4 linked regions of the Homo sapiens genome follow. The protein of the gene in region 3 purifies or fractionates together with the protein of the main gene of each other region. This does not show direct contact. Each region holds a gene or a part of one and is shown on either strand. Other genes may lie near its edges. The genes, in order: NAP1L5, RPL36AL, NAP1L1 and MAGED2.

Region 1 (7,592 bases), on a different chromosome or scaffold from region 3:
AGCAATATAATTTTGCTTCTTTGTAATTTTAACCCTTCAGGGAAAAGGAAGCAAATGGCATCTGATTTTTTAATTTTTCTGGAGTCCAGTTTTTAAAAAAAACTTTCTGCTTCATTCAGAATGAAGCAAACATAAAGTTGAAATAGCCTTTTTTATCCTTTCTGGGAGATGATAAAAACCTGATATTATATTGAGGAAACCAAAACAAGATAGTTTATTTAATTTCCTGCATTTCTGAATTAAAGGCCACATTCTTCTCTCATAATAAGGAATCAAAAACATAGGGAGGGATGTAGTGATGTCTCTTTCTCCCATTTTGTAACAGGAGAGGAGGATTGAATTTCCAATCACTGTCTTTATCTTTCATGTAATAATAATAGCTAAGAATTATTCAGCACTTACCATGGTTTGGATGCTATTCTATAGGATTTATATGTATTAATCCATTTGCTCTTCATAGTAACCCATGAGGAAGGGACTATTCCTATTCCCTTTTGTAGATGAGGAGAAACTGGCCACTGAGAGTATTAGCTGAGTTGCCTAAGGTACATTACTAATAGGAGGCAGAGCTGGGATTTGAATGCAGGCAGTCACAGTACCGAGTCTTTTATATATATTTTTTGAAAATACTGTTTTATTAACACCACAGTGATAAACAACTTTAAGCTTATGTTTCTTTATAGATCACTGGCTCACACATAATTCAAAACCCACACAGAAGCTAAGAGTCTTTACATTAAATATATTCTTCCTAAAAATCCTTACTGTATGCATCTGTCCTCAAGCAGTAAAATTTGATTATGCACCATTTTATAATTAATATGTCACATTTACATAGCAAAATAATGAAGGCACAGCTAATACAAGCAAACTTAAACCCTTTCTACTTCTGAGCTGGGGGTAGGGGCACACACTTGGATTGGTTCTTCAAGTATATATTTTTTCCAAACATTAGCTTCAGTGAAGAGTTCTGATGATTTTCACAGCTACACCCTAAAAGCTACATGACAGAAAGACGTCACAAGGCGCAAAGTACATAACGCTGGATACACATGCTTTACATAATTTGCTACATTCTACATCTCTTCAAGTAAATTAATATTTCTAAAACGCTAGGTAAAGTGATTTAATACTTAAACATATTTGGGGTATTTTTTACGTGTTTGTAAATAGACAGTACTAAGAAAACACAAACATGAGATTGTAACTAATGAATACATATGTTGACAGTATTTTACAGGTTTTACACCCTCCTTCTTGGAACCATGTTGTTTCTCTAAATTCAAATACTCAAAACATTTTTCAGAACTTGAAATGGCAGTTTTCCTGGCCTTATTAACAGTAGTGTCATGATCTCCATTGCAATCTTCCTCAATGCCATCAATCTCCTGTGAAGTGTAAAGCTGATGTCTGCGTTACAAAAGCAAAGTCTCAAAGATGACGTTTTTCTTGGGTTCTGCCTTCTCTGCACTGCGAAATGTCATGAGTAAAGAAATTTAAGAATTAAGCACTGAGAACGTGTTCAGTCATGGCTTGGGTGTTCCATGTGTAGCGTATGCTGTGTGATGAATGGGTTTCAAAGTGACGTTCTTTACTTCGCATCTGCTAACACCCTTTGTAAACCTCAATCCTCAGAGAAGAGACCATGAAAACATAATTTTGGGTTTAATTCAGTTTTCTTTAACACCTTTTGATATATTTATTATGTTCAAAATGAAAGTCAAATTTGAATCGAGCTGGCCAGGATCTAATTGCTTTAATTTAATCTATTTTAGGAATGTCAGAATAAATTCACATTGTATTTTGGTCAAAAACCTGAGCCTTTTTAAGTCCATCGATATTCTGGGAAAAACAAAACCAGGCTTTTTTCTTCGTGGGCTTTCTCTTCATCCATCTCTGCCCCCCTTACTTCTTGGCGTCATCAGGCATCTCGGCGTGGGCATCGTCATGTTTGGCCCCCGCGGCAGCCTCTGCCGCAGCCTCCTCCTCCTCCTCGTCTTCCCCCTCCTCCTCGTCATCCTCGTACTCCTCTTCCTCCTCCTCCTCCCCCTCCAAGGTCCATGCACACCCCTCCATCTCGCCGGTGAGCTCTTGGATCTTGGCGAGTAGGGGCTTATAGATGTCATTATACTTTTTTTCCAGAGCCTGAAATTCCTTATCAAATTTGGCTTCTATCTTATCGCATCGCTTCTGCAGCTTTTTGAGGGCCAGGACTCGGCATTTCACCGAATTAGGCAGGCTCTCGATAAAGTCATTTTTCGGCTTTGGGGCATTCTCTGCAGGGGTCTGGGGCTCCTCAGCCATCTGACCAGCCGCGCTGTCAGGGTCACCAGCCGCGCTGTCACAGTCTCCACCCTGCGCACCGCCTTCCGCCATTACCTCCTCTGCCGCTGCCTCCGCCGCTGCCGCCGCCTGGCTAGGCTCCGCAGGCCCCTGGTTTTCCGAGTCGGCCATGTTAGAGGAGAAGCCGCAGAGGTCTAGGAGGGCTCCCGCAGAGGCCCTGCACCCGAGCTGGTCCAGAGAGATCTTGCGGATGCGGCAAGTGGCGGTGACGTGCGGCCGCGGGAATGACGTTGGCCGCGGCCCCGCCTCCTGCTTTCGCGGCACTTGACTGGCTTCCCACTATCAGCTGACGGCCGTGTGCTCATACTGCACCAGATTCCTCCTGTTGCTACCCTGACATCTTCTGGGCCCTCAACACCCGCCTGTTGGACAGACACCCTGTTCCCAGCCCACCCATGTACCCACCCCTGTAGAGCTGGGCTGGGAGTGTCAGTAGCTGCCCGAGGTGCTTCTTCAGGAACTGCATAGATGGCCTCAGACCATTTTCCGTGTGCTCCTCACCCCCATCCAGGCCCTTCTACAAATGCCAGTGCATATGTCTTCGCTTTCCTCTGCATCTCTCTCCATAGCTGGCGTTTGATCACCTCTTAGATTCCTCCGCATTCCTCTCCATGCAGTGGAGGAACGGGCAAGCTGGCTCCATTCCACCCCTTTGGGGACCTGGGGTGCATGTGTGTGGATAGGGCAGCTTGCATATCCAAGCTCTGTACCTATGTGTCCACCCAACACCCCCTTGGCCATCCCACACACCTAGCGGCATATATCTTGGTGGCAAGGTCGTCTCTCAGCAGGACTCCCCTGGAAGCAGTTTTGGAGCCATTTGGGTAGGAAATCTCAGAGCTCCCGGTGTCCTGGTGTGTGTTCTAGAAGATCCTACAGAATCTTTGGCCTGTGGGAAGGACTAAAGCTTGAGGAGGGCTGAAAAAAAGCAAGTCTTTCTAAAGCATGGGGCCCAGGGCCAAGGCCCCCTCTTATCTTGGTTAAAGCATGTGCCATCTATCCCACCCCGCTCACATTCGTCTTCCCTGCCTTCCCCCAACACCGTCTGCTTCCCTGCCTTCCCCACTATCTGTTTTCACACCTTTCCACACCACATCTTCTCCCTCCCTCCTGCCCCTCCCCCGCACTGACTTATGCCCCACCTTCTGCCCATCTTCTTCCCCGCCTTCTTCCCCACTCACTGCCTCCTTCCTCACCTTCCCCCCGCCGCACTGTCCTTTTCCCCACCTTCCTCACCCTCTTCTTCCCCACCCTCCTTACCCTCTTCTTCCCCACCTTCCTCACCCTCCTCACCCCCTTCTTCCTCACCCACTGCCTTCTTCCTCACCTTCCCCCCACCGAACTTTTTCCTCACGCTCCTCACCCTCTTCTTCCTCACCCTCTTCACCCTCTTCTTCCTCACGCTCCTCACCCTCTTCTTCCTCACCCTCTTCACCCTCTTCTTCCTCACGCTCCTCACCCTCTTCTTCCTCACCCTCTTCACCCTCTTCTTCCTCACGCTCCTCACCCTCTTCTTCCTCACCCTCTTCACCCTCTTCTTCCTCACGCTCCTCACCCTCTTCTTCCTCACCCTCTTCACCCTCTTCTTCCCCACCCCCTAGCCCCACCCTCTTCCCACCCACCCCCAGCCCCGCCTTCTTCTTCCCCACCCACCCACCCAGCCCCACCCTCTTCCTCCCCACCCACCCACGCAGCCCCACCCTCTTCTTCCCCACCCTGCCCACCATCTTCTTCCCCACGATCTGTCTTCTTCCCCACCTTCCCCCACGGTCTTCACCACCTTCCCCCAACCGTCTTCTTTACCCTGCTCACCATCTTCTTACTGGCTCACCATCTTCTCTGCCTTCTTTCTCACTCCCATATATCATCTCTTTTGATGGCTACAGCTGCCTTGAGATTAGGAATGATGTTTCTCATTTTACAGATAGTAAACTTAGAAGCAAATACAGTGAAATCATCTTACTGCATGTATCACTTAATTGGCAGATGCAGGGGCAGAAAACAGGCCTTTTGACCCCTATAGTATGGATGTTGTGACAGACTTTAAAAAAAAAATCCCACATTTTGGTTAAATTCATTTGACTAACTTAACTTGCTTAAAATATTTAGGGCATGTTCATCTTTCAAGATTTTTATTTTCCTGTCTCAACAGATCTTAAAACTTAGTGTTAAACCAGACTGTTTTTTAAAAAGTCTGGCTTATTGAGGTATCATTTACATAACAGTAAAATTTGTCCTTTTGGGCGTGCTTTCACAAGCAAATACAGTAATGTAAGCACTGTAGTAATCAAGATATAGAACAGTAAATAGTCCCCTAAAAGTCCGTTGTGGCCCTTCCCCAGCATCCAGCCCTGGTGAGCACTGTGCTGTTCTCTGTCTCAGTACCTCTGTTTTTTCCAGAATGTCAGGTAAATTGAATCATATGAATGTAGCCATTTGAGCCTGGCTTTTTTTTTTTACTAGCAGAGTACATTTGAGATTGATTTATGTTGTTGTATATATTAGTAAATTTATTTTTTATTATTTTTTATTTTACTTTTTATTATTGGGTAGTATTCCCATTTGTGGTGTTTGCAGTTTTTCATAATTGTGAATAATGCTGTGATCATTCATCTACAGGTTTCTCTATGAGCATGGACTTTTATTTCTCTTGGGTAGACACCTAGCAGTGGGATTGCTGGGTCATACAGTAAATGTACGCTTAACTTCATAAGAAGCTGCCACACTGTTTCCCAAAGTGGCTTTAATCTGTTTAGTGTTGCTAAAAAGGAAGACCGGAGGCTGCTAGCTAAAAGGTTCAAGATTGGGCATGTAGATGGTGAGAGTCTCAGGCTGCTTCCTGAGACTGTTGAGCTATTTCTACCAATAGTCCCTTAAGTGAAATCTAGGTTTTTCTATCAAGCTCCTCAAAACTCTTTCAGGCTCTACCTATTTCCTCATTTCAAAGGCACATCTGCGTTTTTAGGTATTTGCTGTTGTAGTACTGTACTTCTTAGTACCGAAATCTATATGTCAGTGTTCTCCAGAGAAACAGAACCAACAGGGTGTGAAGCCGAGGGGGGTGGGGGCAAGGAGGGATTTATTTTAAAGAATTGGTTCATGTGATTGTGGGGGCTGTCAAACCCGAAATCTGCAGGGTAGGCTGTAAGGCTAGAAATTCTGGCAATAGTTAATATTTAAATCTTGAGTCCAAAGACAGTCTGGAGGGAGAATTCTTTCCTCTTTGGAGGACCTCAAGTCTTTTTCTCTTAAGGCCTTCAGCTGATTGGATATGGCCTACCCACATTATGGAGGGTAACCTGCTTTACTCAAAGTCAATGAATTTAAATGTTCATCCCAACTAAAAAAATATCTTAACAACATCCAGACTGGTGTTTGACCAAACAACTGGATGCCATAGCCTAGCCAAGTTGACCTATAAAATTAACCATCACAGTCTGTAATAAAAATTGTTGTGATGGTGTTTCTCTTGGGTAATTGTATCAGAAAAATGTCATTAGTTTAGTGTCATGGGTTTCAGAGAAGTGAGGTGTTATATACGGTGTGAGAAACTTTCAGCATCAATGATTAACATGCACAATAATCTTTTTACATTAGTGGCTTTATTTTAAAGATTGCACAGTTATACCATTTTAAAAATGGGAAAAGGGAGGCTTACTAGTTAGATACAGAAGATGGCAGAGCCTGGATTTGAACCCCTGTCTGCCTCACTTATCCACTGTATTACACCATTTGTTGGCTAGTTATTGGTGTGGATGGTGAACATGTAAAAACTATCTGCTTGGAGGAAACCCAATAATTCAAATGTAGCTTTATGAAGTATTAAATTACAGTGATGGATAAGTAGTAAATAACTATCTTCATGATGTGAAGTTTTAAAATTGTTTTTAATCTAAAATACAAAAAGTTAATGTGACAAACATTTGTATATATGATCCACAGTCAACAGGTATTTGCTTCAGATTTTTTAATAAAAGAAAAAAATTACTGATACCGCTGTACATACCCTTAATTCCAAATTACTGATACTGTTGTACATACCCTTAATTCCATTCCCCTCTTCCCGCCCTTCTTTCTTACACAGACAAAACTCTTATGAATTTGATATGTTTTTTTTATGTTTTTATACTTTTTATAATAAACATGTATGTTAAAACAGATTTTTTTTTTTTTTTTTGAGATAGGGTCTTGCTTTGTCACCCGGGCTGAAGTACAGTGGCGTGATCATGGCTCACTGCAGCCTTGACCTCCTGGGCTCAGGTGATTCTCCCACCTCAGCCTTCTGAGCAGCTGGGACTACAGGCATGCACCACCAGGCCTGGCTAATTTTTTGTGGAGACTGGGTCTTGCCATGTTGCCCAGGCTGGTTTTGAATTCTGGGCTGAAGCCATCTGCCTGCCTCAGCCTCCCAAAGTGCTGGGATTATAGGCATGAGCCACTGCACCTGGCTAGACAAAGATCTTTTTACATTAATGTCTTTGTTTTTAAAAATGAACACTTACACATCTTATGTATGCATCATATTTATAATTTCATACTCATAAGCAAAATCTCATATCCATAAACAATATGATAATACTAGTTAATACTTACAAAGTAATTGTTATACACCAGCCTTGGTTTAAGCACTCTTACATGTATTCACTCATTTAATCCTAAAGCAGTCCCATGTGTTATCTACTCTTACTCTCCCCCATTTTACAAATGAGGACACAGGCATGGAGAAGTTAAATAACTTGCCCAAGGGTCACAAGCTCTGAGTGACAGAGCTACTACCTTTTATAAGTAGCATTGTTTTAAGTGTTAAAACACAACTTACATAAATGCCATCATATTTTACTGAACATGCAAATACTTGATTTTCACTCAGCATTGTTCTTGAGATTCTATTCATTTTGCTAAGTTTAGATCTAGTTAATTCCATCAAAGTGCTCTGCTTTATGGTTTCCATCATATGACTCTACCATCTTTTCCTTGTCCATGTTCATATTAATGGATGTTTAGTGTTGTTTCTCTAAATTCTCTATATTGCAAGAAAATGCTGCAGTAAACTTGCCTGCACTCATCTTCTTGTGCACACATGTTAGCGTCTCTGCATTACCTACCCGCTAGCACAGTGGCATGGTCAAGGGTATTTACATTTTCAACTTATCTAGATATTGACAGAATTTCCCCCCAAAATGTTTATGTCTAGGTTCACAGTTTATATTTCCACTTGTGAGAGACTGAATATTCCTATGGACAATGGC
Region 2 (7,502 bases), on a different chromosome or scaffold from region 3:
TCAGCTCTATATTTTGTCACACAAACTATATATATTTTTGTTACATAAAGTATATATAATAGATTTAGTTATTTAGTAATGATTTTCAAAATTCAATTTTGAAGTATTTCTTAGAAGTTATTGAAATATTAAAACATCTTGTGGTTTTATAGAAATTTAAGAGTAAAACTGGAATTTTTAAAATCTGGCAATTTGCTCTGATAGGAAAATTGCCTTCATTACATTATTACACAGAAAAACAAAAAAAAGCCAGTGTTTCCTAATCACTTTCTTTTTTTTTAAGAGATGGGTCTTGCTATGTTGTCCAGACTGGATTCAAACTCTTAGGCTCAAGTGATCCTCTCATCTCAGCCTCCTGCATAATCAATTTCCTTTATAACACCTAAAATGTGAGGCAAAGAGAAGATCCTAACAGGTTTTTTTCTTACAAAAAATTTTAGGGCAGCCAAAGAAAATGAAAGGAAGGAAATACAGAAAGGGAAATATTTGTTGATTTAATCACTAACCCCAAAGCCAGGAGCTGATCTATTTGTTTCAAAAACAGCTACTACTTCACACTCTGGCCTTCTTAGCTCAGTCCTGGAAATAACCTAATTTTTTAGTTCTTTGAACTAGTGATGTCAGGTCAGAGTACCAGAAATAGGTACAAAGCCTCCTGATTCACCCTTATTTATAACCCCCAGGCAAAATCTTGCACCAGACTGGGCCGTGGGTAAGTCTAAAGGTAGCTCGTAAAGCAAGAGAACTATTTGCCTCACCTTAGATAAGCATATGTGCTCTTAAACTACTATGAATCTTAAATTGATGCAATAATTTTGAGACTGCCATTTAATAGTTACAAGTTTAAGTAACTTTTTTTTTTTTTCTTTAGATGGAGCCTTGCTCTGTTGCTCAGGCTGGCGTGCAGTGGCACGCTCTAGGCTCACTGCAACCTCTGCCTCGAGACTCAAAGGATCCTCCCACCTCAGCCTCTCAAGTAGCTGGGACTACAGATGCACCACTACACCCGGCTAATTTTTTGTATTTTTAGTAGAGATGGGTTTTCGCCATGTTGCCCAGGCTGGTCTCAAACTCTTGAGTTCAAGCAATCTGCCTGCCTCAACCTCCCAGAGTGCTGGGATTACAGACATGAGCCACCACACCCAGCCCGTAATATCTTTACACAGAAATTAGTCTTTTATGAGAAATTCTCGGTTGAATGCAATTACAAATTAAGGGAAACTTCTATAAACGTCTACATTAAATATGGAGCAAAATTTAAGCCTGTTTCCTATAATTTTCTGTATCTGTCCTTTTAAAACGTATGATTTAAGTTAAAGCTGGCACTAGAAAGTATTTCACTTTGGCATGACTGAACTTTGTATCATTTCTGGCTTTCAAAAACAATTTAGGCTGTATTTCCCTTACACAGCAACTTTTTATCATTCATTTTCAATGCCTGGGTAATTTGAAAGCCAAACAGTTTCTTGCACAGGGAATGCATTGTCATAAGCTGGGTTTTATTTCAAACTCAATTATACAATGTAGCAATAGTAAATATTAAAATGTAATGCTAACTCAAAACTTGTAGAATGCCTTCACTGAATTTTGGTATAAAGAGTAAACAAAACTTATTCTGCAAAAGGATTAGGAACCTTTTTATGCAAAAATGAGTATTTTATTTTGTCAGCACTAAAAGAAAAAAAAAAACAAAACCACTGTATTTCTACATTGAGGTGAAAACAATGTTTAAACTTTCTTATCAATCAAATACATTCCAAAAGAAAGTGTGTTCTATGAAGGTTCCAAAACACACTCAAAACACAATAGTACAGGAATCTAATACTGAAAATGACTGTTCTGACAGGGTGTTTAACAAACATAACTTTTAAATTATTAAACCAGTGAAGCAATCCCTTCCTAATAAGTGTGTCAAGAGAGTGAAACTGGGTTTGTTCCATTAATACCCTAACAATTTCATCGTAATACTTTTTACTGCTATGACAGTTTTAAATAAATTTTGCTGTACTTAAAATAGGTTTTGAAAGTGGAAAAGTGTACAAAGTTTCAGATAAAAAGATTAATAAATGCAATTTAAATAAAATTTCCCCTCTTCTCTCATATCAACAATAATCAATTTTAGCAGATAACAGATTGAGCTTTAAAACCCTACTCCCAAAATGAAACCTTCAGTTTTAAATCTTAATCAGACATAACTGGAAAAGATTACTATGTATTTGGACACCTTTTACAAGATTTTGTTTTTGTATTAAAGCAGAAACCAGTTCCTAAACTCTTTTATTCAATTGTATGTCCTGTTTGGACAAATATCAAAAATAGAAGACTGTCGCTTTTGTAACTGTGATTTTCACTGCAGTCTTCTATAACTTTTACAGAGTTCATGGTCCCTAATATCTCCCCACCCTCCATTTTTTCTAGGTGGGGAAATGGCTACCACAGTAAACTTTTCACTGATAGTTAGAGTTTCTGGAAACATGTATTGTTTGTTATTATTTAAGAGTGACTCAATTTGGGCACTCTGAGTGGATGGTCTACAGGTTTTCTTGTGATGCATACCACAGTCTCCAGCATGAAAGATCCTAGGAATTTGAGGAACCAGCACTTTCCAGAATTTTGGAAGACAAGATACAGTCAAGTATTGAAGAGTCCAGTCCCAGTTATAATCATCATAAGTACAGAAAGTGTCTGTGCACTCGATCAGCTTCTGATAGGCATTCCGGGTCAAGGCTAGACCCATATTGTGCTCTGTGGATTTCCAAGTTTTCACATCTACCTTGTCAGCCATGCCATAGAAACTGCGACTGGCACTATAGGTCCCCAGGGAGAGAACATCACATTCAGGGCACTCTTGCTGCTTCAGTTTCCACATCTTTTTGAAGACATGGTAAAAGTCTGGGGCTAAGTAGTGATCCTCTTCTAGGAAAAGTATAAGGCCAGCATAATCTCGAAGAATTTTCACTCTTTCCCACACAAAATGCAGCTTCCACCACCAGTGATGTTTGGTCTGGGAGAATTTGGCCTCTCTATAATGGCCGAAGGAGTCGGGATACTCAGCATTGATGCACCCCAATTTCAAAGCGGCATTCTTCGGCAGGTCTCTGGGACAATCTCTAGGGTCACTACCTGGAAACTCGTTAGGGTACAACTGAATGCTGAAAGGAAAGAACACCTGCAGAACCGGACAGAAATTCACCCCGGCGATCAGCTGATTGATCTCGGTCGACCAGAAGTCATGGCTAAAGATGACGAGGACGTTGTCAATTCCCTGGGCTTTTCGAAGTGAGTCCAGCAGCAGTCTGAGGTATTCGGGCCGGTTATGCACCTGGACCACCAGCACCAGCTCCCGGGGGGCCCAGGTGCCAGCCTTATCTACATTCCTCAGGGTCTGATCAAAGTTCAGCTGGTACACCAGGGACCGGTACCGCAGCGTCAGGTTGTCCGCCTCGGGCTGGGGGACCGCCGGGACCAGGGAAGCCGCCGACACGTTGGAGACCCTGCGGATGCCCACAGCCACAGAGGGGTGGTCCCCACCGCGGCCGCCGGCACCCCGCGCGGGTTCGGCGTCCAGCAACGGTGGGGCGAGGGCCTCGTTCTTCCTTTGTCGCCCATTGCTGCTCCAGAGGACGAAGCCGCAGGCGGCCACCACGAGCGTCAGGATTAGCACCTTCCGTTTGTAGATGCGGAACCTCATGGTCTCCAGGGCCGGGAGCGCAGGCGGGCGGGCGCGGAAAGGAGCAGCTGCTTCTGCACGGAAGGGGCGGGCGGGCGGCGGCCGTCGCCTTGGCCTGTCACGGTCGGAACTGGCCCCCGCGGCTGCCCTCGCTAACTCATCCCGGGCCCCGGGGGTCCTGGGGCCCGAGACCTCTCATTTACCCCGCGCCGCCTGCGCTCCACACATCCTCGCCTGGCAGCTACAGCTCGAGCATCGGCGCCGCCGCTAGGAGCCGCGGCTCGGCTTCGTCTCCGTCCTCTCCATTCAGCACCACGGGTCCCGGAAAAAGCTCAGCCGCGGTCCCAACCGCACCCTAGCTTCGTTACCTGCGCCTCCAGCGGCCCTGCGTCCTCTGCGCTCTCATCCTTACAGGGGCCCTAGACGGCCAGAACTGAGCGACGCGGCCTCGCCTCACTCCGGCGGGGACCGTTATGACAACCCGCAACTGCCCCGCGGCACACCGCGGCCCTCCGGCCCACACCCCTCCGGCCCGCCCCTTAGACCGTTGGTTGGTGCTTTCCAGACGCGACCGAAGGCGCCTGACCGCCGTGGCCGGCTGCCTATTGGTTTGCAGTACTGTCGCTCAGGTGCAGTTCCCACTTCCGCCTGTTTCTTCCCTTTCCTGTTAGGCGAGAGCTGCGAAAGGCGAGAGCTGCGAAGGGCCAGGTGTCGGGCGCTGTTTCTCGGTAAGCTAAGAACGAGGCTGTAGCGGCTCCAATAGGAGCCTCCCTTGCTCAGAATCCTGGGTAGGACTAGGCCTTCTTAGGAAAGGGAAGGCGAGACCTATGGCCCTCGCCGGCCTTAGTTCGAGAGCAGGCTTCTCCCTTCAGGAAAAAGGTCTCAGGCATGGCGGCTATAGAATCGCGGGGCGCGCCGGCTTGATAAGGACACGTCAGCCCTCGAGGCTGCTGACGGGTGACTGTGCTTCGGAGGGGAAAAGTGATACTACGCTGATGTGGTTCTCGTAGAAGGAACGGGGCGGGTCGTAACCGTAGCTACAACGTCGCGCGCTGCCCCAGCCATTCTCTAGAGCTGGAAAATGGAGGAGGTGGGTGGGGGGAAGGGGGTCAAAGAAACTCTGGTCCTTAACTTCCTTTTCGGAAGAAAATTAGATGAACCGCACTTTTCTTTTGGAGCAGTCACAATAAATTAAACTCATTTCGTACGGAAAACGGACTGTATTGGGCCTCCTAAAGCTGCTGCTGTCGGTTTTCGTGAGTCTTGTTCTATATGAGAAAAGAAGAATGGCTCGGAGCATTGTTAATTATTTGAGATGTGCAAAATTTGCCGGGCCCAGAGAGACAGCAGTATGGGACTTCAGACACCTCCCCACTTAATGCCTGGCATTTTATTCCTGACTAGCTGCTTCACCCATTATGTCCGCGTTCCTGGAATTTGTCATGAAAAGAATGATGTATAGCCAATCAATCGCTTGTGTTATTTTAATGTAAATTCTTGGTAGACAATTTAGGAACTGCCATTTTTTCCTCTAAAAACCCACTTGCAACTGCTGCTACTCAGGGCATTTTGAATCTGTGCTCTGGGTTGCAATCCTCAAACTTGCCCCAAATAAACATTCTACTTATATGAATTGTGCCTCAGTTCTTTTTTTTTTTTGAGACGTAATTCCGCTGTTGTTGCCCAGGCTGGAGTGCAATGGTGCGATCTCGGCTCACGGCAACCTCCGCCCCTCCCCACCCCGCCCAAGCGATTCTCCTTACAGGTATGCACCACCACCACGCCAGGCTAATTTTGTATTTTTAGTAGAGACGGGGTTTCTCCATGTTGGTCAGGCTGGTCTCGAACTCCGGACCTCAGGTGATCCGCCCTTCTCGGCCTCCCAAAGTGCTGGGATTACAAGCATGAGCCACCGTGCTCGGCCTTGCCTCAGTTCTTTAGGTCGACAAATTAGTCCTCCAGTAATTTAAACGAAGTGTTTCAAAAAGGTATGTACTTGTATGTGCGTTTATTCATATGGAAAAAGAGTACGTGGTGGATTTATATATTACTCATTTATGTGTACGGTTTTCCTGTATATACTTGTATAGCACTTTCACTTTTCGGAATGTTTAACGTCTGCTATCTTATTTTAAATATTTTACTACAGTTTTCATCATATAGACAAAACAGCCCTGCTGCAAAGATGGTCAACGTACCTAAAACCCGAAGAACCTTCTGTAAGAAGTGTGGCAAGCATCAGCCTCACAAAGTGACACAGTATAAGAAGGGCAAGGATTCTTTGTATGCCCAGGGAAGGAGGCGCTATGATCGGAAGCAGAGTGGCTATGGTGGGCAGACAAAGCCAATTTTCCGGAAGAAGGCTAAGACCACAAAGAAGATTGTGCTAAGGCTGGAATGTGTTGAGCCTAACTGCAGATCCAAGAGGATGCTGGCCATTAAGAGATGCAAGCATTTTGAACTGGGAGGAGATAAGAAGAGAAAGGGCCAAGTGATCCAGTTCTAAACTTTGGGATATTTTTCTTCAATTTTGAAGAGAAAATGGTGAAGCCATAGAAAAGTTACCCGAGGGAAAATAAATACAGTGATATTCTTACGCAAACTTTTTGTGGTTTTTACTTATAAATAGAATTCCATGTTTAGTGTAGTCCCACCTCAAACTTTACTAACAAGTTTATATATGTATGAAGGGAAAATACTACTTTACTACTTTTTGTTTTCTGGTCAATTTCAAATGTTGAATGAATTCATAAACATTGAGCAGCTTAGAAGGATCTTTAAGATTTTGCAAGAGAAGGAACAAGATAACGCTAGGCTTGTGTATAGCAGGCTGGGTTGGGCAAAGGATGGAAGTTGGGGGATAGTAAGAGCTGACCAAATATTCTGTCTAGTAGGGGCCGCTAGCCAGGTAATGTGTTTCCTGTTACACTAGTCAGATTTAGTACTCAACAGCCACGTGTGGCTAGTTTATTGGACAACACAGATGTAAAACATTTCCACCGCAGAAAGTTCTTTTGGACAGTACTGTTAGAGACTGTGGCCTTGAATATAAAAGGATAGTTCAAAATTGACTTCACACTAAAGTTCTCAATCTAGTGAAAGTCCAAGATAGCATAAACTGTTTTTTGAACCTCTTAGAACACTCTGGGAGGTACTCAAAAAAAAATTTTTTTTTGAGACAATCTGTCACTGTAACCCGCACTGGAGTGCAGTGGCACATTCATGGCTTACTGTGGCCTCTCAGGCTCTGTAGCTCTGTAGGTCCTGCCTTAGCCTTGGAGTAGTTGGGTACCACCATGCCTGGCGAATTTGCCTGGCTAATTTTATTTCTTTTTTTTTTTTTTTAAAGATGGGGTCTCACTCCTGGGCTCAAGCAATTCTTGAGCCTAGGCTGGTCTCAACTCCTGGGCTCAAGCAATTCTCCCATCTCAGCCTCCCAAAGGGTTGGGATTACAGTGTGCTACTGTGCTTGGCCAGAACTTGACAGTTAGGAAGGTTTAGGAGTTATGACTGAAAACAAGAAGGTTGAAATTCACAATGAAAAAAGTTGAGCCTTGTAATTATGAAAGGCAAGAAAAGTTCAGTATCAAGTGAAAAACTGGGAAAAGGTAGGGGTTATAAGAGGTCAAATTCTGCCTTTTGTATATGAATTTAAGTTGACTAAGATACATGGGAATGACAGTAGTTAGAGGAATGCAAAGGGCTAGGGTGTGTAGGAGTAACAGATGGTTTGCACATAATCCCAATAACTGACTATTATAGCTGCATTTGATTGTAAAAAAAAATGTAAAAATCATGTATACGAGTTTATTTTTAAATACATCACCATCAC
Region 3 (7,430 bases):
TTATTTAAATGTATCTTGTGCAGTTTTTAGATGATAATTATTATTAGTTCCCTTGGATGTTTTACCTACAGATTAATTCAGAGGGAAGAAAATAAATACTGAGTACTTAAAGGGCAAGTCATTGCTCTGGGAACTTACATACATTTCTCTATTTCATGCTAATAAAGACACAGATTTTATTATAATTATTAATGCATTTTTCAGATAGGGAAGCTTGAAGATCAGAGTGGATAAGTACTTTTGCAAGGTCACAGTGTTGAAGGAGCCTATACCTGTCTGATGTTAAAGCCTATGCTTTTTTTTCTACTACATAGGGGCTGAAACACAGACACAAGCACAGGTAAAATACCATCTTTGTCATCAAATTTCTTGTTGATCTTCATAGTTCTTATCCAATATTGAGAAATGTTGACTATAATATTTTTGTGGTAATTGGTGTGGATTATTTCAGCTCAGGAAAATGTCTTTTAAAAGCTGTGACTAGATAGCTTTTAATAAAATATGTCACAAAAAGTGTCAGACACTATCAGAAGACTTCGGGGTAGTTCCTTAAACCTTTAAATAAAACAAAAATAAAAACAAAACTTCAGTAAGAGGTTAAAAATGGTTACCTTTTATTGAGCGGTCACTATATATGTCAGGCATTATGTTAAGCAACTTAAATGTGTTATTTAAAGTTTCACAGCTGAGCCAGGCACAGTGGCTTACACCTGTAATCCTAGCACTTTGGGAGGCCGAGGCGGGTGGATTGTCTGAGCTCAAGAGTTTGAGACCAGCCTGGGCATTGTGCAACCCCATCTCTACTAAAATACAAAAAAATTAGTGGGATGTGGTGGCGCGCACCTGCAGTCTCAGCTACTTGGGAGGCTGAGGCACAAGAATTGTTTGAACATGGGAGGCAGAGGTTGCAGTAAGCCGAGATTGCGCCACTGCACCTCAGCCTGGGTGACAGAGTGAGACTCTGTCTCCAAAAGTTTCACAGCTGGGCAAGGTGGCTCATGCCTGTAATCCCAACACTTTGGGAGGCTGAAGTGGGAGGATCTCTTGAGTCCAGGAGTTCAAGACCAGCCTGGGTAATATACCAAGATCCCTCTTGACTTAAAAAAAAAAAAATTTTTTTAAGTTTCACAACAGCCCTATGAAAAATGCATGCTTATTTTCCCCATTTTACAGATGTGGAAAATGAAACCTGGGATGGCTAACTGACTTATCCAAAGTTACACAGCTATTAAGTGGTAGAAAAATGGGGACAAAATAGGCTGTTTGACTCCAAAGCCACCCCTCTAAGCCTCCAGGCTACAATGCTATAAAAGTCTACCAAATGAAAATCATGGGAGATAGAGAAAAAAGGACCTTTAATTTTAGTATATATGCTTCCAAAGAGAGCATGAGAAAAGGAACTGCAACAGAAAATTTCGCATGGCCCAAGATCAGTGACCAGGGTCACCATTTATTGCAATTAAGTTAGATGAGTTAACTACATTGTGTGATTTGGGGGTATAAGAGGGGCCAATGTAAAAAGCTCAAAGGTGGCCGGATGCAGAGGCTCACACCTGTAACCCCGGCACTTTGGGAGGCTGAGGCAGGCGGATCATTTGAGGTCAGGAGCTCGAGACCAGACTGACCAGCATGGTGAAACCCCATCTCTACTAAAAACACAAAAAAACTAGCTGGGCGTGGTTGCGCCTGCCTGTAGTCACAGCTAATCGGGAGGCTGAGGCAGGACAATTGCTTGAAACCGGGAGGCAGAAGTTGCAGTGAGCCGAGATCGCGCCACTGCACTCCAGCCTGGGCAACAGAGTGAGACTCCGTCGAAAAAAAAAAAAAAAAAAAGCTCAAAGGTATCTTCAGGTCAGTCACCTCCTACCCCTTTTCTCATTTTATTTTCTTTATAGCATTCACTTATCAATTATTTATTATTGATAAGTGAAATTGTTTTATTACTAATATTTTATTAGTAAAATTATTTTATCTCTAATCATTTGCCTCACCTCACTAGACCATAACTTCAATAAAATCAAGAACCGTGTCTTTCTTACTAAATGCTGTATTTCCAGAGTCCGAAGTTGTGCCTGACATAAATATTTGTTGAATGAATGCATAAATGTCTGCCCTTCCCTGAACTTTAATGGCAAAGACTTAGATTTACAAACTGGTTCAAAAGACTATATTACAAAGGCATGCATTATTAGAAATATTTTATTGTTTAGTTTCTTAGATTGGCTAGGATACACTGAAAAAAGAAGAGGAAGCTGGAGAAAAGGGGGAAAGAGCATATGTACTGGTAATGATAACACCTAAGTTATAGGGGTTGGTGGGGGGGTGGTGAAACCTAAAAAATCCAGAGCCTTCATGAGCGAAGTGCCGAAAATTGATGAGGCTCTCTGGTGTGGGATAAAAACCACCACAAAAGCTAACTTCTCAATTTTGTCTCAGAAATTCTGCTACCATAAAGATTTATGGAAAGAAAGTGAAAGTTATTTAGTTCATTTTAATATGCTAATTACCTTGCATCGTGCACAGCTTTGATTAAAATGCAACATTCCTGAAGTTCTTATTGAAATTAATGTGTCAAATTTATGTTCAAACTGAGCACTGGTCTACCTTGTTTATGTATAGTGGGTTCTTCCTGAAGATCCATTATTGATGCTATTATGCTCCTTGTATCATTACATCATTGTTGAGAAGGGTGTACAGGAATAGGCTATGAGAACAACAAAGGAATTGTATATGAAAAACTAAAATGAATGAATAAACAGAGTCGTCTGCAGTATAGAGTGGGAAGGCAAATAATTTCAATGAGGTTCTGGAGGGCCAAGGAAAACATTGTATCCCCTAAAACGGAAGATAAAGTTGCTAAATGTGTGGATTACAATAGGGGATTCTAGGCAGTTTGAAGTTTCAATAAATGCAAGATTTAGAGAAGAGGTTCTCAAACTTTGTGGTCTTAGGATTCCTTTACACTCCTTTAAAAGTTGAGGACCCCAAAGAACTTTTATGTGCATTACTGATACTGATATTTATATCAGAAATTAAAAGTGAGAAATTTTAAGAGTATTTCATTTAAAAACAATAAAGCAATCAAATATTAACAAAAAATAATTTTTATATGAAAAATAACTACTCCCCCTTGCCCCCAAATCGAGTTTTTGCAAATCTCTTTAACGTCTGGTTTAACCGCAGATGACTGGATTCTCCTATCTGCTTCTATTTTCAGTCTGTTTCCTTATCACATGTCACGTAGCCTCCGGAAAACCCCACTGTACACTTGTGAGAGAATGAGAATGCAAAAGGCAGTCTTGACATTAATATGGAAATAGTTTTGACCTTCCCCATGAAAGGGTCTGGGGACCCTCAGACCATACTCTGAGAACAACTTTTTGAGTTAGTATTAGTCAATTCATCATCACTTGAAAATTAGCTATGAGGTTTTACAAGCCTGAGGATTTAATGTGATTTACTTTTTCAGAAAGATGAAACAACGGACGTACTGAGTGTCCTCATTATAACGCATCCAGAGAATGCACAAATATGCCATTTTCATCCGTCAAAAGAACTGAAGCCGAACTGACGGACTGTACATCAGTTACGAGGATGTGGCGGGGGGTTGGGGGGCAAAGGATGACGAGCACCCCCTAAAGGCGCGGAGACCCGCTGGCATAGGAGAAGCAAAACTGTCAGAAGAGGCCGCCGAAGTGGTCTAGAGGAAAAAACTGTTTTTCTTAGGCGGGGAAGGAAAACGGTTACCGGGGGCCGGCGAGTTGCAGGAATTAGGCCTTGACAGGGAGCGTCCGCCGTCTAGGCTGCGGCGAGCGAGGGACCAGGCGACTGGCGCCAGCCCTGAGCGTTCCCAGCACAACGCCGAAGGGGGCGGGGCGGGCCGGGCGCCGGGCACGCGGGCCAGGCCTTCCCCACAACTGATGGGGTTGAAATTTCCTTTCCGGCTCAGCAGGGAGAAAAGATATGGTGGGGTGCTTAACAGAGGAGGTTAGACACCGGCGGGAACCAGAGGAGCCCAAGCGCGGCGCCTGGGCCTCGGGGCTGCAGGAGTCCTCGGTGGGGGTATGGAGGTCGCCGGGGAAGGAGGACGGTTCAGTTGCTAGGCAACCCGGCCTGGACCCGCCTCTCGCTCGCGTTGCTGGGAGACTACAAGGCCGGGAGGAGGGCGGCGAAAGGGCCCTACGTGCTGACGCTAATTGTATATGAGCGCGAGCGGCGGGCTCTTGGGTCTTTTTTAGCGCCATCTGCTCGCGGCGCCGCCTCCTGCTCCTCCCGCTGCTGCTGCCGCTGCCGCCCTGAGTCACTGCCTGCGCAGCTCCGGCCGCCTGGCTCCCCATACTAGTCGCCGGTAACGGATGGGGGCCTGGAAGGGAAGGGGGAACGTGGTGTTGGCTGGGCGGCCTGCGCAGATGGGAGGGCCGGAGGGATGGAGGGACTGGGAGCCGGGAGTCGGGGCCGCTGGCCGCCCGTGGCCTCCGGGGTCGTCCTGTGAGGTCGGACAGGACCGCGGAGTCCGGACCCCGGAGCCTGAGAGGGGCCCCGGGGCCGACCAGCGCTTTTATCGGGGACGGCTGAGGCGACGTAGGGGTTGGCGCGGCCTGGAGGCCTAAGGTTCTCTGAGCTCCACCGTCTTTTCCGCGTGGACCGGAGCGAGGCCGCGGTGACGCCCGGGTGCCCTGAGACTCGGCTGCGCCGCGAGGACCGGGAGGCCCCCGGCGTACGGGCCGGGCCGAGTGCAGAGCCGGCCGCCTCTTGGACACCCCCCTGCTTTTCCCTCAAAAATAATACCAGGAGGGAGGCCGCTGGGAGATGAAAAGAACGGCGGAGGCTGCGAATTCCGACGGGAGGGAGGGGCTGTGGAGGGACGAGTCCCCGAGGCGGGGAGGGGGCGGGGGAGGCTGCGACGCTCCCGGGCTCTCCGCCCATTGGGGGCGGCCGCGCGGGGAGGGGAAACCCCCGGCGGCTTCGCTCCACACGTGGTAATGGGCTTCATGGCCACTGGCTGGGCCTGGTTGGAGACCCTTGCCCTCGGTCTGTGCTTACTTTGAAAGTTGTAGAGACGGTGGAATGTGAAAAGGAAGGGTAAGCGAGTAAGCCCTGTCCCTGGGTTTCAAACTCTTCCCTGCTTCTCTTTGGTCTTAATCTTTTTATTGGTACCAGAGATTGTGGATGTTAGCTGATGATAAGGAAGGGCCTCCACTGCTAGTATTTTAAAAAGTTAACGCGTATATAGCGCTTATATTAACTGTTATTAGCAAAAGGTTGTTATTGTGTTTCCCAGGTACTGTTAGATGGGTGTCTTGATCAGGGTTTTTTATTTGGGGAGTATTGATCCTGATCGATCTAAACCCCTAAACCAAGCTTGTCCAACCCGCGGCCCAGGACGGCTTTAAATGTGGCCCAACACAAATTCATGAGGTTTTTTTTTTTTTTTTTTTTTTGGAAAAAAAAGCTCATCAGCTAGTTAATGTATTTTACGTGTGGCCCAAGACAGTTCTAGTGTGGCCCAGGGAAGCCAAAAGATCGGACCACCCCTGCAAACGGTTCTTAGATGAAAATAAAATGTTTGGCCCTTTATGACTTTAATTGTTCTTGGCTGTCTTATAAATTAGTTCCTTTATTGAAGTCACTAGAATAAGATACTTAACGGTTTCCTTTTTAAGATGGGAGGTGGGATGGAATGAGGTGTTAGTATAAACTTTGCCAAGTTTGTAGCCTGCAACCTTGTCAATGAACCCTACTGCCCTAAAGATCTGGGGGATGGCAGTGTAGGGGGGCTGGGACTGAGGTCCCATCTGGGAAGGCTAGACTTTGAGAGTGCAAAAAGGATGAACCAGGCGCAGGATGTCCTCAAGGAGCCCGTATTTTAGACGGTCACTGATCAGTTTTGAAACAACTACATTTTAAAAATCTCACTGCTACATTTGAAGATATCCCACTGCTGCATTTTAAAATTTACACTGCTTGCCTGGTTTCACAAGAGCTGTAAAATGAAATTTGGCCTTTTGAAAATAGGTGGATTCAAAACATCTTTGGAAACGAGTATCTGGGTCCTCTTTTTTTGGTCAGCTTAAATTAATACTCCTATACTTTGGAAGTAATATACATTACCTTTGATTGAATAAGGGAAAAACCTTTTATGTATAGGGTACCATTTAAAAATCGAAGGGAAGTAAATGACTTTTACAGTTATTTTCAAGGCACTCTTGTGTTTCAAGCTTGTTTGAAGTTGCCCAAGTTTAAATAAATGGCCTAAATCTATAGTTTAGTTCTAAGAATACTGTCCTTTGGAGAATGTATGGAACTAAACCCTGGTAGGTGGACTTGGACATCTTCTGTCATAAAACCTGACTTTCATAGATTCTCCAAGTCAACATTATGTTAGTAAATAGAAATTTAAAAGTTTTCACTATACCAATTTGAATATCTTTCTAAATTTTATCTGCTACAAAGTGCCTATTTTTATATTAGGCCCATTGATTTGCAGAATTATAAAGCTAATACTGAATATGGTAAATTACTGCACTTGGCCTTTAATGAGATTTTTGAAACGAATACCTGTACCATAACTAATGTAATCCAAAATGCCATCTCATTTTATTCAGCTTGCTCCTGTTGGCTCCTGGTAAAACTGAGTTGATTCTAAATTCTCAAAATATATTCAAAACTAAGGGTCTTTTTGTAGAAGGGGCTAAAGAAGCAGTATCTGTTGGACTTCAAAGGTCTGAAGATGTCAAAATACAATATTTTATTCACTTCTTGGTTGTAAATTTGAAACAAAGGATTAGAGAGAATGACTCATCAATATCAAAATATTAATGATCAGTGTATTCAGATCTTCAAGTTTAATCAAACCTGTAATTGTGTTCTCAGTTTAGTCTTTGGGTAACTATCTAGCACCTGTATGGACATGTATCTTATGTCATGAGCAAAAGAGGCAAATTGGTTGCTTAGATGTAGAATGTTAAATTGTGATGAGAGCTATAAAGGAAGGAAAGGGTAAAGGGGTCAAAGAGTAATACAGCGTTTACACAAAGGAACCTGTTATAATTTGATGATTTTAAGTTCCATTTCAAACTAGTTTCATCTAAATAAGTTTTTGGGCAGAATAGGGGTTAGAAGGAGAGAGTTGTTACTTTACACCTATCCATATGTAAGTCGTTTAGCACAATGACTACAGAACATTAGAGTACATTAGTGGGCTTGCCATAGAAAATGGCTTCTATACCTTTGGTTACCAACTCTGCCTTTTACTTCCTGCATATTTGTATATATTTTTACTTATTCAGAAGTTTTGTACATTTTAATTTTTATTGGGAAACAGGGTTATATATATTTTTTCCTTGTGGAGACAGGCTCTTGCTGTGTTGCCCTGGCTGGTCTTAAATGCCTCACCTCAAGCGATTTTGCCTTGGCCTCCCAAAGTGCTG
Region 4 (8,205 bases), on a different chromosome or scaffold from region 3:
TCGCCTTGCCTTGGGCAAGTTACCCCTCTCACTTTTAATATTGCCATCTGTGAAATGAGGCTAATGTTCACACAGTATAAAAATAAACCCCTTAAGAGCAAGGGCCACCTCTGGAGAGGTGTCTAATACATAGTTGGTGCTCATTTTCTGTTGAATGGCCTAATCATAGCTCACAAGCTTGTGCTGAGGAAGGACTCAATATACAGAGAACAGGGGAGAATGAGGGTTAGTCCAAAAGTGGGTAGCAGGTTTCCTCATCTATGGGAAATTTGTCTTTTGTTTGACAAAATGTCATTTTTGCTGTGGAAAGGTAACCCTTAGGGCTTAGAGTGAAACAAAGTTAACTAAATTGCCCTACATATAAAAGGGGAAAAAATGAGATTTCACCAGCAGCTCAAGAAAGAAGACATAGGCCAGGTACGGTGGCTCATGCCTGTAATCCCAACAATTTGGGAGGCTGAGGCGGGTGAATCGCTTGAGTCCAAGAATTTTGGACCAGCCTGGGCAACATGGTGAAACCCCATCTCTACCAAAAATACAAACAAACAAACAAAACCCCAAAAATTAGTAGGGCGTGTTGGCATGTGCCTGTAGTCCCAGCTACTTCTGGAGGCTGAGGTGGGAGGATCGCTTGAGCCCAGGAGGTGGAGGTTGCAGTGAGCTGGGATCACACCACTGCACTTCAACCAGAGTGACGGAGTGAGACCCTGGGGGAGGTGGGGGGAAGACAGAGAGAGAGAGAGAGAGAGAGAGAGAGAGAGGATATAGAAGCCTGGAAATGGAAAGGAGAGAAGTTGCCAGCATGTTGGGGGACAGAAAGGGTCCAACAGGGGTGGGGCATGGGGCCTAGGAGAAGGAACAATTATTAGGCCTTTCCCAGTGGTGGGAATGGTTATGGAAATCTGAAGAACAAGAAAGTCTGATGTCCAATTTAAAGTTGATTTCTATGCTGAGCTGCATGGTTTAAATGACTAAAGAAATGACAGGCAGCCTTAAAAGGAAACCTTTGCTACCCTCTCCCAAATTTTCCAAAATTCAGAGATACGGATTCTGTATAGTTTAGGAGAAAGTAAATGTGCTAGGATAGGATTGGTGGTGGGGATATTCTGGGCTTTCCATTTGAGCTTCAGGAGTCTGGAGTCTTGGATGCCTGTGGGACTAGACAGTTCCATCTCTACATTCTGCACTAAGCAATCCTTAGCCTGCCTTTCCTTATCTCCAGAACAGAGCTGCCTGATGATAACGGCTTTTCATCTTTCCTCTTAGTTGATATGTAGGATCTATATGGTCTCAGATATTTCTCTACTGATTTATGGGTGCTAGAAATGGGCCTGAGACCCAGTGACCTAGGTTCTTCAGAGTTTATGGGTGAATGCTGAAGATCAAGATTCCAAGAGTTCACAAGGAGAAGGTGGGAGGAAATCTCTCTGGTCAAAGGGTAAAGATTATGAACTAATTTGTCTTTTCTCCCCCGATAAGGCTGCCTCCTATCCTCTGATCCCCAGGTCATAAGATAAGGTTGTTAATGGTATTATGTTATGAAGGTGGTGGAATTGAGAGGGGTCTGGGGAAGTTTGGGTTTGACAATCTTTGGGAATGCCTCTCTGATGGATTTGGACTGAGATTTCTTCTGACTTCCTGAATCCAATAATATCTCCTAACGTTCTGACTCTGTATTCCTTTAAATTACCCCAGGATCCCAAAGACCACAACTGGGACCTAAAACATTGTGAAACTTAAAATGTTGGAGGTTGTAACCGAGCATAGATATACCAGAAGGGTAGTTGTAGCAGAGGGTGTTCCCCATGGGGACAAAATTGCATAACAAAGGCTCCTAGGCAAGAGAAGGCAGGGCATATCTGGTAATAGTGAAGTGTTCTGTTTAGGTGGAATATAGGCAACTATATCTAGTACTCTCAGAAAAACAGCAGGAAAAGGGCTGGAAAAGCAGTCAGGGCTGGATTTTGGGAGAGCCTTGAAATCAAGCTCAGGCGTTTCTTGGGAAAGCATTCCATACCCATTGTCATGTATACCTCACCTGCTATTCATATCTCAACTCACTGCAATCAGGAAACTGTTGCATGGAATAGACTCTGAAATAACAATAGCTTAAATAAGACATACATCTATTTGCCTCACCTAAAAGAAATCCAGAGGTAGGCAGTTCACGTTGGCTTCATGAAATTGTTACGGATCCAGGTTCTTTTTAGTTTACTAATCCAGTATCCTTAGAGTGTGACCCTAGTCCTCATGGCCTTTATTCTGGGAGGCTATGTATCTAGCTAAAAATCAGGTGACTTATTACTAAGGAAGAAGAGGAGGATGAATACTAGGGTAAGCAATTAGCAAGCTATGCCACAAACATGTGCACTGAAACTATTCCTTCCAAGGTCACCAGAGACCACCACTTGATCGTCAAAATCCCCAGACATTTTTTCAGGTCTTACTTTTCTTGATTCTTGGCACCATTCATCACTATTGACCTTGACTCCTCCCTCCTTTTGAAACAATCTCTTCCCTTACTTTTGTGACACTCCTTTCTCCGGTTTTTTTTTTTGTGTTTGTTTGTTTGTTTTTTTTGATGGTGTCTCACTCTATCACCCAGGCTGGAGTGCAGCGGCACAATCTCGGCTCACTGTAACCTCTATCTCCCAGGTTCAAGCGATTCTCCTGCCTCAGCTTCCCGAGTAGCTGAGACTACAGGTGTGGTCCACCACACCCAGCTAAATTTTTGTATTTTTAGTAGAGATGGGGTTTCACCGTGTTGACCAGGCTGGTCCTGAACTCCTGACCTCAGGTGATCTGCCCACCTCAGCCTCCCAAAGTGCTGGGATTACAGGTGTGAGCCACCATGCCCGGCCCTCTCCTGTTTTTCTCTCTGCCTCTTTGGTCACTCCTTATCAGCCTCTTTCATGAGTTTCTTTTCCTCCACCTATACCAAAGATGCTGTTGGACTGCAGGGCTCTTCCGTGGGCCCATGTCTCTTCTAGCACTACGCATTCACCGGGGTGCTGTTACCCTTTCTCAGGAATTCAAGAACTATTTATGTACTGATGACTCCTAGATCTATAACCTCAGCCTAGACCACTTCTCTGAGCTTCAGATATGTATATTCAACTGCCTGTGGTACATTTCCACCTGGACATGCCACAGGTGCCTCAAAAGCAATGTTCAGTTCTTGTCTAACCTGCTCCTCAAACCCGCTCTTCCTTCAGTATTCCTGATCTCAGTGAAAGGGGTTACCATTCACACAATCTCTCAAATCAGATCGCCAAGAGTTCCCTTTGACACTCCCCTCCTCCTTGCCCTTCTCTTCACAATCCAGTTACTCAAGTCCAGTTACTTTTTACTTCTTTACTATCTCCTCGATTCAATCACTTCTCACTATCTGCCACCACTCTAGGCCAAAGCACAATCATTGCTTACCTAGATGACTACAAAAGTCATAAGCACTCTCCCTGTTTCCAAGACAACACCTAATCCACACTCCATATAGCAGCTAGGTGTTCTTTCTAAAACACAAACCTATGCTGTATCCTTGCCTAGAATTCTTTAGTAACTCCTGGGTGCTCTCAGGATCAACACCAAAGTCCTCATCTTGGCATTCTAAACTTGCCAACTTGCCATGATTTGGAAGGGGTGGGGAATTTGAGATGCCAGAAGTAGAAGAAAAGGAGGGGCTATGTCTAGTGTGGATAAGGGAGAAAATCTAGGAGGCAAGAACATGGTGAACTGATATCACACACTTGGAGAAAGCAATAATTCAGAGAAAGAGAAAAGACAGGAAAACAGAAGCCTGCCTTGAATATGCAAGAAATTTGTGTGTTTGTCTATCTTGAATTATCCATGGAACACAGGGATTCATTATATGTTATTTACATAGTAAAAGGTGACCACATAAAGCAGAAGACTTGTGTCCATTTGAATTACATTTATATGTGGAAAGGCACTGAATATTATTTCTGCAACTAACAGTTGTGCTGAATTTTATTATGGTTTCTAATAACTTTTTAGTTGATGCTCTTGGGTTTTCCAGGTCTGCATTTATATATTCAGTAATTAATGATGATTTGTCTATTTCCTATTATTTTACATCTTATTTTGTTCTCTTGAACAGATCCAATTGGTTATGTGAATTTATTATGTGATAGAGGTGCCATTTCAAAGCAGAGAGGGAAAAGATGGATTAGTTTGCACATGATGTAGAGGTAAGAGACTATGATTTTGAAGAGTAATCAAGCTGAATCCGTATAGAAAATAAATTTTGAAATGATCAAACATCTAAATGTAAATAATAAAGCCACAAAAGTGCTTGAAAAAAAAAACGGGGTTTGTTATAGGAGTGTGAAAAGCATCTTTAAGCAAGCAGCAGAATCCAGTTGTGATGAAGGAAAAATGGATATATTTGACTACATAATAATTAAACATTTTTGTTTGGCAAAAATTATCATAAATAACATGAAAAATATTTGTAATATGTGACATGTACAGGAGAGACATTGCTGGCGGGAATGTTATCCATTTACTTTTTAGGAGTAAGTTGACAAATTTTGCATCAAAATGGAAGACTTTTTTGTAGCATTTGAGCTAGCAAAAAATACCATAAATAACAAAAAGTGCACCAAGCAATCTAAATGTACATGTGTACTGGACTGGTTCAATAAATTATGGGACATCTATGCAAGAAAAGATCATGCAGCTGTTTAGAAAAATGTGCACTAACGGAAAGATGTTTTATATATAACTGGAAAAAAACAGGTCGCAGAACAGAAGGTATGTATAGTGTACCATTTGTCGGAGAGAGAACCTGAATAATTAGTATACGAATAGAAAAAAAATCTGGATAGCAAAATGTTAATAGTGGTTATTTCTGGGAGATGAGTGGCCTTTCATTGGTGTGTTATATATTACTGCATTGTTTGAATTTTTACAACAACAACAAAAGAACAACATATTACCTTTGTAATAAGAAAAAATGAAGATATAAAAATAAATTCAATGAATGACTTGCTTTCAGGGGGCGGTTTGAGTTGGAAGAGCTTCAGACTGAGCCTGGTACAGTGGCATAAACATGGGCTTTGGCGTCAGACAGCCCTGAGCGGGGCCCCATTGCCCCACCCCCGAGGAAGGCGAGGGGGGGTGGCAGGGGGCTGCGGAAAGGGGCTGGGCTGGGTTGGGCTGTCTGCAGCTCTAGTCCAGGAGGCTGAGACTTCGAGAGGGACTTAGAGAAGGCAGACGCATCCCGAACTCGCTGGAGGACAAGGTGAGGGGCGTTGATATTGGGGTTTTATGGAGGTCAGACAGTGGTTCCAGACCCCTCGAACCCATAGCCAGGCAGATGAGCAATTCTTACTGCACCACTGCAGCTGAAGCAGAGGTGACCTGGAGTGGGGTGTAGGCAATGAGGACGACTGAGAAAGTAGTAGGCTGTACAGACTGGGAGCAGAGACTAGCGGAGGGAGGAGGGGAGAAAAACGGGGAACCAGGAATGTTGGGAGGGGGACGAGGAATACAAGGAGGGAGGGGAACACTGAGGGGGAGTGAAGATCCAGAGAAGAGAATCGGGGATGCAGAGAGGGATTAAGGAATACTGAGGGGCAGGGTGTGCAAACGTAACACGGAGGAGGATGTAAGAAATGGGAAGAAGGAATTCTGGAGTAAATAGGAAATGTGAGGTAGGAATAGGGAGTAGGGAGCCAGGCTAAGGGAATACGGAGGGGGGCATAAGGAATGAGGAGCAGGGAGCGGGGGAGGGGCAGACAGGCTGGGACGGAGGCCCCCTAGGGAGGCGGAAAGGGGCGGGACCACTTCCGGCCTAGAGAGGGGAGGGCAGTCTCCGAGTTTCGGAGGGGCTTGGAGTGAGTGGACGCACTCGGGAATTGTAGGAGGACGAGGTGAGCAGCCGGGTCGGCTTTTGGATGAGAGCCCCGCTAGGGGTCGGCCCCACCCTCTGGGATCTGGAGAAAACCTGCCTTAAGGACCGGATCGTACCGGATCCATCCGGCTGGGAAGGGAGGGGACTGGACCCGGTTTGGCCGGGCCCAAGATGGAATCACTAGCTCAGTATTTATTTGAGGAGGGGGTGTAATAGGGAAGGGGCGGAACCAAGATGCGCCTGTTTGGAGGGGGGCGTGTTAGGAAGAAGGGCGGGGCCAAGAGACACTGGACTCTGTAGGGCGTGAGTAGGGGAGGGGCCGGGTCCACCAGACACTGCGACAATTTTGGAGGAAGGCTTGTTGGGCAGGGGGCGGGACCGAATGGTACTGCGGACCTGGAGAGGGGCGTGTGTTGGGGCAGAGTGCCAGACTGAGACCACGACCATTGCGCATGCGCACTATGTTTCGCTAGAAAGGGGCGTGTTGAGAAGGGCCAGCACTGAGAAGAGCCAGCTGCTGAATGCGCATGTGCACGGTGGACATCAAAGAAAGGGCTCGTGCTGGGAAAGCGGGCGGGGCTGAGAGCGGCCCTGCAGCCGACGCGCATGCGCTCTATCGACCTGCGGCTGGGTGGGGGGTGCACTGGGAAAAGGGGCGGGGTCCTCAGAGCTGCCGCGCTGGCACATCTTCCTGGAGAAGGGGAGGGTGCGGCTGCAGAGAATTGAGACTTAGAAGCTTTGAATTCCTGTATCTGAGAACGGAGTCGTTGGGGGTGGTGGAGGGGGTTGGAATTGGGGACCTACGGAAGGTGAGGATCAGCCTCCAGGCACAACAGGGGAGAGGACGTTCAGTGGGCTTCAACTTGACCCAGGCCTTCTCCCCTTCAGGCTCAGCTCTTGCCAGGCCAAATTGAGACATGTCTGACACAAGCGAGAGTGGTGCAGGTCTAACTCGCTTCCAGGTAAGGCCTCTTTCTGTCCTTTCCCCAGCTGCTTTTCCTCTCCAGCCCTTGTTGCTGCCCCCAAGTCCCTTGGCTCTTCCCCTCCCATCCTTGTCCTTCTCCACCTACTTTCCTGCCTGGGTGTCCCCCTGCCCAGTGGAGGGAGGGAGAGAAGGTGGGCGGGCCCCTCTTCTGCCATCAGTTCTTGCTCAGAGGAAAGGGAGGCCTTGTTGGGCTGAGGTGGTCAGAGCACACCGCAGGTAGGAGTCAGTACAGGTCAGAGAAGTGTGGCCTTGGAATTTTGGAGCCATTTGCTTAGTTGGGGGTGAGGAGAAGGTCTATGAACTTCCCTGCTTCCTCTTGCAGGCTGAAGCTTCAGAAAAGGACAGTAGCTCGATGATGCAGACTCTGTTGACAGTGACCCAGAATGTGGAGGTCCCAGAGACACCGAAGGCCTCAAAGGCACTGGAGGTCTCAGAGGATGTGAAGGTCTCAAAAGCCTCTGGGGTCTCAAAGGCCACAGAGGTCTCAAAGACCCCAGAGGCTCGGGAGGCACCTGCCACCCAGGCCTCATCTACTACTCAGCTGACTGATACCCAGGTTCTGGCAGCTGAAAACAAGAGTCTAGCAGCTGACACCAAGAAACAGAATGCTGACCCGCAGGCTGTGACAATGCCTGCCACTGAGACCAAAAAGGTCAGCCATGTGGCTGATACAAAGGTCAATACAAAGGCTCAGGAGACTGAGGCTGCACCCTCTCAGGCCCCAGCAGATGAACCTGAGCCTGAGAGTGCAGCTGCCCAGTCTCAGGAGAATCAGGATACTCGGCCCAAGGTCAAAGCCAAGAAAGCCCGAAAGGTAAGACCTCTGCAGTCACCACCCTTGGTTTTCTACTCCTCTCTCAGTTGATTCATTTGTTCTACAAACATTTAGAAAGATCCCTGTGCTCATCAGGGCTGTGGGGGGCACTGAGAGTAATGTGATGTAATTCCTGTCTTCAGAGAGCTTGCAGACTGATGGGGAGGTGCAATCTGAATGTAATGCAGTTTATGTTTACATAGTAGCTGCCCTGTATTAGGCCTTGAGCTAAGCACATTTATGCAGGTTATCTCATTAAATCTTGAAAGTAATTCTCATAGCCCCAATTTTATGGAGAAGGAAGCTGAGTTCCAGAGAGGTGAAGCGGCTTGTCTAGGATGGTTCAAGCAGAGCCAGTAGTGGGCACAGAAAGAGAAGAAGACTCAGCCTCCACCCACCCTTGGTTTGCTCCTGGCCTGCTAGGCAGATGAAACACCTGCTTGGAAGTCAGTGAGAAACAAATCCAGGGTTCAGCATGGCCAACATCTATTGAGTCAGGCTGTTACTACAGGGGTGGGATTAGCGGGTGCT

What was found.
Region 1: the proteins of NAP1L1 (region 3) and NAP1L5 purify together in Homo sapiens (affinity purification with mass spectrometry; 5 studies listed by BioGRID and IntAct, with this or other methods). This does not show direct contact.
Region 2: the proteins of NAP1L1 (region 3) and RPL36AL purify together in Homo sapiens (affinity purification with mass spectrometry; 3 studies listed by BioGRID and IntAct, with this or other methods). This does not show direct contact.
Region 4: the proteins of NAP1L1 (region 3) and MAGED2 purify together in Homo sapiens (affinity purification with mass spectrometry; 5 studies listed by BioGRID and IntAct, with this or other methods). This does not show direct contact.

What each region holds. Positions count from the first base shown.
Region 1 is NC_000004.12:88,695,301-88,702,892, forward strand, and holds NAP1L5 (nucleosome assembly protein 1-like 5), read right to left. Parts: upstream 2,530-7,592; 5' UTR 2,455-2,529; coding exon 1,906-2,454; 3' UTR 613-1,905; downstream 1-612.
Region 2 is NC_000014.9:49,617,458-49,624,959, reverse strand, and holds RPL36AL (ribosomal protein eL42-like), read left to right. Parts: upstream 1-4,333; 5' UTR 4,334-4,398; intron 4,399-5,819; 5' UTR 5,820-5,855; coding exon 5,856-6,176; 3' UTR 6,177-6,430; downstream 6,431-7,502. Other genes in the region: MGAT2 (alpha-1,6-mannosyl-glycoprotein 2-beta-N-acetylglucosaminyltransferase precursor), read right to left, coding at 2,348-3,691.
Region 3 is NC_000012.12:76,081,485-76,088,914, reverse strand, and holds the start of NAP1L1 (nucleosome assembly protein 1-like 1), read left to right. Parts: upstream 1-4,229; 5' UTR 4,230-4,348; intron 4,349-4,972; exon of another isoform or gene 4,973-5,082; intron 5,083-7,430. UniProt on the Homo sapiens protein: Histone chaperone that plays a role in the nuclear import of H2A-H2B and nucleosome assembly.
Region 4 is NC_000023.11:54,802,540-54,810,744, forward strand, and holds the start of MAGED2 (melanoma-associated antigen D2), read left to right. Parts: upstream 1-5,205; 5' UTR 5,206-5,263; intron 5,264-5,806; exon of another isoform or gene 5,807-5,894; intron 5,895-6,541; exon of another isoform or gene 6,542-6,684; intron 6,685-6,763; 5' UTR 6,764-6,792; coding exon 6,793-6,837; intron 6,838-7,182; coding exon 7,183-7,674; intron 7,675-8,205. UniProt on the Homo sapiens protein: Regulates the expression, localization to the plasma membrane and function of the sodium chloride cotransporters SLC12A1 and SLC12A3, two key components of salt reabsorption in the distal renal tubule.